Homo sapiens: one gene and its partner. The protein of the gene in region 1 purifies or fractionates together with the protein of each later gene. This does not show direct contact. Each region holds a gene or a part of one and is shown in the gene's direction. Other genes may lie near its edges.

What was found. The genes of interacting proteins can lie anywhere in the genome.
Region 2: the proteins of RABL6 (region 1) and PPP4R3A fractionate together in Homo sapiens (co-fractionation; one large-scale study listed by BioGRID). This does not show direct contact.

Annotation. Positions count from the first base shown.
Region 1 is NC_000009.12:136,835,448-136,838,947, forward strand, and holds part of RABL6 (rab-like protein 6), read left to right. Parts: intron 1-294; coding exon 295-398; intron 399-1,898; coding exon 1,899-2,215; intron 2,216-2,414; coding exon 2,415-2,568; intron 2,569-3,461; coding exon 3,462-3,500. UniProt on the Homo sapiens protein: May enhance cellular proliferation. May reduce growth inhibitory activity of CDKN2A.
Region 2 is NC_000014.9:91,500,311-91,503,810, reverse strand, and holds part of PPP4R3A (serine/threonine-protein phosphatase 4 regulatory subunit 3A), read left to right. Parts: intron 1-3,500. UniProt on the Homo sapiens protein: Regulatory subunit of serine/threonine-protein phosphatase 4. May regulate the activity of PPP4C at centrosomal microtubule organizing centers.

The DNA of each region.
Region 1 (3,500 bases):
CGTGTGTGGGTGGGGGTGCTTGCTGTTGAGGTTTATGCCTGTGACTGACAGCTGTCCCCCAAGCCATGCTGGCAGTGTGTAGGTGTCGTGCCGGCCACCGCAGAGGAATCCTCTGGGCTTCTGTGGTTCAAGTGGGGCCCAGCGCAGAGCTCCATGAGTTGCTGAGCAGCCAGCCCTGCAGCATCTCCTGGTTTTGGCAGCAGGAGGCGTCCCCTGTGCATTCAGGGGCTGTGGGGCTGGGGCACTCGCAGCAGGAAGGAGCCCTGCTCAGGCCTGCGTGCTCCCTTTCTGCAGAGGGAGACGCTGTTGCGGCAGCTGGAGACGAACCAGCTGGACATGGACGCCACGCTGGAGGAGCTGTCGGTGCAGCAGGAGACGGAGGACCAGAACTACGGCATGTATGTGGCCGGACCCGCCCGTGCGGGCGGTGTGGGGGCTGCGGGCGTGGCCGTGGTGCAGGGCCATGGGCTGCACCAAGGAGACAGCAGAGGGGAGTGTCCCCTGTTTGGGGTAAATTAGTCACCTTTGGGCACGGGTGGAGGAGGACTCAGGTTTGCACTGCCCCCAGCAGCCCCCCCACAGTCACCCCTGGCGTGGACTCCTCATACAGGTCATGCTGTGCCTGCCACTCTGAGTACCGCTGACCGTGGCCAGGTGCTGGTGCTCATGGAGTGCTGCTGGGGCTGCCTGCCCATCAGGGGCTTGGCCTCCCAGATTGATGCCAGCATGGGGTGTGCTTTCTGGGGAGCTGCTTGACTTTGGGAAGCTCCCTGTGTTGAAGAGGCATACAGGCCAGGACATGGAGGTCTCTGGTCCTCGATAGCAGAGGGCGGCTCAGAGCATCCTCCTGAGTGGGCCTGGGCAGTGCATAGCCCCGGGGTTGCGGCCAGTGGGACAGCTGGCCCGTTCTCTGCCTCAGGCTCCTGTACAGCTAGGGGCTTGGTGCCTCCCCTGGGACCCAGGCAGGGACCACGGAATCAGTGGCCCTCCTGAGGCCCCCCAGGAGGTCTCTGTTTCCAGAAGGAGAGCCCTGTGGGTCACCTTGGATCTGGCTGTTGGCTCAGACACAGCAAGAGACCGAGAGGGAAGGCAGTTTGATGCCTGGAGAGGGACCCGTGGCTTCCAGCTGCCAGGCCAGCCCCAGAATGGAGCCCCCCGCATGGGCGCTTCTCTGTTGAACCAATCCTGGCATTTCCTGGGCCTGAGAGTTGGGTCAGCTGGATGCTGCGATGGCCGCACGTGCTCCACCAAGCCCCAGCCCCCTCCTCTTCCCAGAAACCCCCGCTCACGGGAAGGTCCAGTTGCTGCCATCTGGCCACCTCTGCATGGAGCCCCCAACAGCTGTGCCTCAGAACAGATCCGAAGTGACTTTCAGGGGAGCTGGACACATGTACGCTGGTGCCTGCTGTCCCCACCCTTTGGCACTGCTGCTCTTTCTTTTTCTGAGATGGAGTCTCGCTCTGTCGCCCAGGCTGGAGCGCAGTGGTGTGATCTCGGCTCACCGCAAGCTCCGCCTCCCGGGTTCACGCCATTCTCCTGCCTCAGCCTCCCAAGTAGCTGGGGCTACAGGCACCCGCCACCACACCCGGCTAATTTTTTTTGTATTTTTAGTAGAGACGGGGTTTCACTGCGTTAGCCAGGACGGTCTCCACCTCCTGACCTCGTGATCTGCCTGCCTTGGCCTCCTACAGTGCTGGGATTACAGGCATGAGCCACCGTGCCTGGCTGGCACTGCTGCCCTTGGAAGTGGATGGGGATGATGGCCTCTGTGGGGCGGGTGGCCCAGAACACAGTGGCTCTTCCCAGCCCCAGCAGCAGCAGCAGAGAGCCCCCTGTCACCTGAGGGCCTCAGGGAGAGGCAGGGGAGCCAGGCTTCTCACCCGCCTTCTGCCTTTCAGCTTCCTGGAGATGATGGAGGCTCGCAGCCGTGGCCATGCGTCCCCACTGGCGGCCAACGGGCAGAGCCCATCCCCGGGCTCCCAGTCACCAGTGGTGCCTGCAGGCGCTGTGTCCACGGGGAGCTCCAGCCCCGGCACACCCCAGCCCGCCCCACAGCTGCCCCTCAATGCCGCCCCACCATCCTCTGTGCCCCCTGTACCACCCTCAGAGGCCCTGCCCCCACCTGCGTGCCCCTCAGCCCCCGCCCCACGGCGCAGCATCATCTCTAGGCTGTTTGGGACGTCACCTGCCACCGAGGCAGCCCCTCCACCTCCAGGTAGGCCCTGGAGCTGCCCCTCCCAAACTGGTCCCAGACCCCCAGGCCCTCACAGGTGGGGTCCTGGATTTCGGAGCGCTCCACGCTTCTTCCTGCTTGTCCCAGTCCCGTGGGCACATCCCGGGTGGGCCTGGCTTGGGGTTGGGTGCAGTGAGGGTTCTGGTGCCGAGTGAAGAGGACCCGGCATCACTGTTCACAGAGCCAGTCCCGGCCGCAGAGGGCCCAGCAACGGTCCAGAGTGTGGAGGACTTTGTTCCTGACGACCGCCTGGACCGCAGCTTCCTGGAAGACACAACCCCCGCCAGGGACGAGAAGAAGGTGGGGGCCAAGGCTGCCCAGCAGGACAGCGACAGGTGAGGGGTGGGCCTGGGCCTCCTCTCCCATTGCCCCCCAGCCTCCAGGGTGCCCGAGCAGCAGGTGGGGCTGGCTTTCTAGGGGCGCAGAAGGGGCCCCCCGCCGGCTGGTCACTGTTGGCTGAGGACAGAGCAGCTCTGTGGCTGGAGCAGACGAGGGAAGGGCTTGGACGGGGCTTCCAGACATCAGAAAGGCCTGGCCACCTGCTCTGCCCACACCCTGGAGAGGACAGGGGCACCTTGGGGTCTTCTGTGGGCAGATGCCACATGGAAGCCATTGGAGAGGCCACTGCAGGTCATATGGGAGGTTCAGGCCACCAGATGTGGTCTCCACAGGGCCAGGATCCAGGTGCTGCAGAGACAGGGGCGGCTTCCTGCAGGTCCTAGAGCTGGGAGCTAGAGCCGCCTCCCCAGCCATCTGCCAGCCCCTCCCACCACTCTGTCTGCCAAGCTGCCCCAAATTTTGCCTGCAGCAAAGCCCTGCATTTGGTCCCAGGACAGCCCTGGACAAGCTCCACCCACAGTGGCCTCAGCACCTCAGCCTCACCCATTGCTGTGGGGCAGCGGCTTCCTCCAGAAATACACAAAGGACAGAAAGCCCCGTGGCCCTGAGCTGGGCCCGCCTCCTCCACGAGCGCCCACTTGTGCGGCTCCACATCCTTCACCCACTGAGCGGCCGCAGGGCAGCACTGTGTCCAACCTTGTGCCCCCGACCCCTTCCTGCTCAGAAGCCCTGTGACCATGAGGGGGCCTCTCCACAACACAGCACCTGGGGTGGGGTGGCCCCACGGCCAGGGTGTGCTGGGTACCAGGGCGCCTAGAACCAAGGCCCGTGAGCCCGGCCAGCCATCCCTACCCCGTGGCCCTTGACCGCTTTGCCCCCTGCTTTGCAGTGATGGGGAGGCCCTGGGCGGCAACCCGATGGTGGCAGG
Region 2 (3,500 bases), on another chromosome or scaffold:
TAAGGATAATAATTTCATACCTTGCTTATGCTCTCCCTTTGTGGTGAAATCATTATACTACTTTTCTTTCTTTTGTTTTTTCTTCAACTTTTATTTTAAATTCCCGGGTACGTGTGCAGGTTTGTTACATAGGTAAATGTGTGCCATGGTGGTTTGCTGCACAGATCAACCCATCACCTAGGTATTAAGCCCAGCATCCATTAGCTATTCTTCCTGATACTCTCTCTCCCTCTGCCCCTTTGTACTACTTTTCACCATTATGATTTTTACCATATCCACCTGCCAGTTTTACAGTTGATAAATGCAAGGCTGGGGAACAAAGTGAGACCCCCCATCTCTACAAAATAAAAATTTCTAAATTAGCCATGTGTGGTGTTAAACACCTGTAGTCCCGGCTGCTTGGGGCTGAGGCAGGAGGATTGCTTGAGCCCAGAGGTCGAGGCTACAGTGAGCTGTGACTGAGCCACTACTCCAGCCTGGCTGATGAAGCAAGACCCTGTCTCAGAAAAAAAAAAAATGTAGCTCGGGCACAGTGGCCCACATCTGTAATCCTAGCACTTTGGGAAGCCAAGGTGGGGGAGGATTGCTCAAGGCCAGAAGTTCGATACCTGCCTGGGCAACATAGCAAGACCCTGTCTCCACAAAAAGTTTAGAAAATTAGCTGGGCATGTGGCACATACTTGTAGTCTTAGCTACTCAGGAGGCTGAAGCCAGAGAATTGCTTGAGCCCAGGAGTTTGAGGCTGCCATGAACTTTGGTCATGCTACTGCACTCCAGCCTGGGTGACAGAATGAGACCCTATTTCTAAAAACAAAAAATTTAAAAAAGAAAGAAATGTAAGGGAGTTGGAATTCCTCCACACACTGAAGAGTGTCTTTGGCCATAATCATATTTGTGCTCCTTATTACGAAGTACTTGCCAAGGCATCCAGAATAGTGTGCTTACATTGAGTTTTTACCTTGAATTTTATAAAGTATTCTTTACATTTCAAAATAGTTTTATCTGTTCTCTGACTCATATCTTAGAGTTAAACAGGTTAAATTCTCACTGTTACTTGAGGCATGAAGAAAATGAGACATGGAGAAATGTTTTTGTTCAAGGCAGCACTGCTAGCGAATGGTAAAACTGGGATTCTGTGCTGTTTCTGCCTCTTGATAGAACTCCATGTTCATTGTAGGTGGGTCTGCCTCTATCCCTACTGTGATTAGAAAAGGAGGTCAGAACACTTAGGGTGGAAAAGCTTTTGGGGGTAAGAGCTGTGAGAGAAATGAACAGATCAGTCAGTAGTATAGAATCTTGTATATGCCAAGCATTCTGTATATTTATCAAGAAGAGCTCAGTGTCGGTACAAGGGGAAGTATTTCACTTTGAAAAGTTTGTTTATTTAGAGACAAGGTCTTGCTGTCACCCAGGCTGGAGTGCAGTGCCACGATCATAGCTCACTGCAGCCTCAAACTCTTAGGCTCAAGTAATCCTCCTACCTTAGCCTCCCAAGTAGCTGGGACTGTAGACACATGCCACCAGGCCCAGCTGATTTATTTTTAAATTTTTTCAGGGGAGGTGGGATCTTACTGTGTTGCCCAGACTAGTCTTGAATTTCCTGCCTCAAGCAATGCTCCTACCTCACCCTCCTGAGTAGCCAGGATTATAGCTGTGAGCTACCACACCTGGCCCATTTTAGTTTTTAAATGCCACTATGTAATGAGGCATTTAAATTTTTTTCCGAAAAGTCAGGAAAGAAGGACTTGGAGCACATACCTGTTACGGGTTTAAAGCATACTTTAGTCTTGGCCGGGTGCGGTGGCTCACGCCTGTAGTCCCAGCACTTTGGGAGGCCGAGATGGGCAGATCACGAGGTCAAGAGATCGAGACCATCCTGGCTAACATGGTGAAACCCCATCTCTACTAAAAATACCAAAAAAAAAAAAAAAAAAAAAAATTAGCCGGGCTTGGTGGCGGGAGCATGTAGTCCTAGCTACTCAGGAGGCTGAGGCAGGAGAATGGCGTGAACCTGGGAGGCGGAGCTTGCAGTGAGCCAAGATCGCGCCACTGCACTTCAGCCTGGGTGACAGAGCGAGATTCCGTCTCAAAAAAAAAAAAAAGCACACTTTAGTCTCCCACCTACATGAGATTTTGGGCCCCATTGACTTTTCTTTTTTTGAGGCGGGATCTCACTCTTTTGTCCAGGCTGGAGTGCAGTGATCAGGGCTTACTGCAGCCTTGACCACCAGACTCAGGTAATCCTCTCACCTCAGTGTCCCAAGTAGCTGGGACCACAGGTGTACACCACCATACCTGGCTAGTTTTTTCTGTTATTTTTGTAGAGATGGGGTCACCTTATGTTGCCCAGGCTGGCATTAACTCATTTTTGATGGTGCATTCTCTCTACTAATGAAGCATAGTACATAAGTCCCTGCCTTAAGCCTTGAATATTGATAAGGACAATATACTCTAGAAGCTGATGGGTTGAGCTGCTTGCTTAGGAGTGACAAGGGTGTAGCTCTTCTTTCTGAAATCCTTCAGTATTTATCCAAATCAGGGCTGTGGTGAAGACCAAAGTTACTTAAACCCAAACCCAAACACTCCCATATTACTTCCCTGCTACCTGAGTCTAGTTGGTTGATAGTGAAGATAAAACCATAAAAATTACAGGAATTCTCTATACTATCTCGTTTCTTCAGTGAGAGGAAGTTAAATCTTCTAAACAAGTGAATTTTCCAGATGAATAAAAGCTGTGTACCAGAAGGTGTTTTTTGGGTTTTTTTGTTTTTAAATTTTAGAGACAGGGTCTTGGTCTTTCACCCAGGCTGGAGCGCAGTGGTGTGATCATAGCTCATTGCAGCATCAACATTCTGGGTTCAAGCAGTCGTCCTGCCTCAGCTTCCCAAGTAGCTGGTACTACAGGCACATACCACCATGTCCAGCTAATTTTTGCATTTTTTGTAGAGACAGGGTTTGCCATGTTGCCCGGGCTGGTCTTGAGCTGGTCTCCAATTCTTGGCCTCCAGTGATCCACCCACCTCAGCTTTCCAAAGTGCTGGGATTACAGTAATGAGCCACCATGCCTGGCCTACCATAAGTTTTAAAAGTCAGTAATTTTTTTATGGAATGTTGACTAAATGTGTACTGGAATGTTTTTCCTAAACAGTAAATGAATATATTGGTTAACCTCTTATTCGTAATGTGTTTATGGGTCATTATTAATGCTTGGTGTTTATGGGTCATTATTAATACTCGTTTTCCTGCTATACAACAGTACAGTGTTACCAGTGAAATGACTGTATGATGATGCCCTAAAAAAACAAGTATTGAGGCCAGGCGCGGTGGCTCAGCTTGTAATCCCAAGCACTTTGGGAAGCCAAGGCAGGCAGATCATGAGGTCAGGAGATCTAGAACATCTTGGCCAATATGGTGAAACCCCGTCTCTATTAAAAATACAAAAATTAGCTGGGCGTGGTGGTGTGCGCCTGTAGTCCCAGCCACTCTGGAGGCTGAGTCAG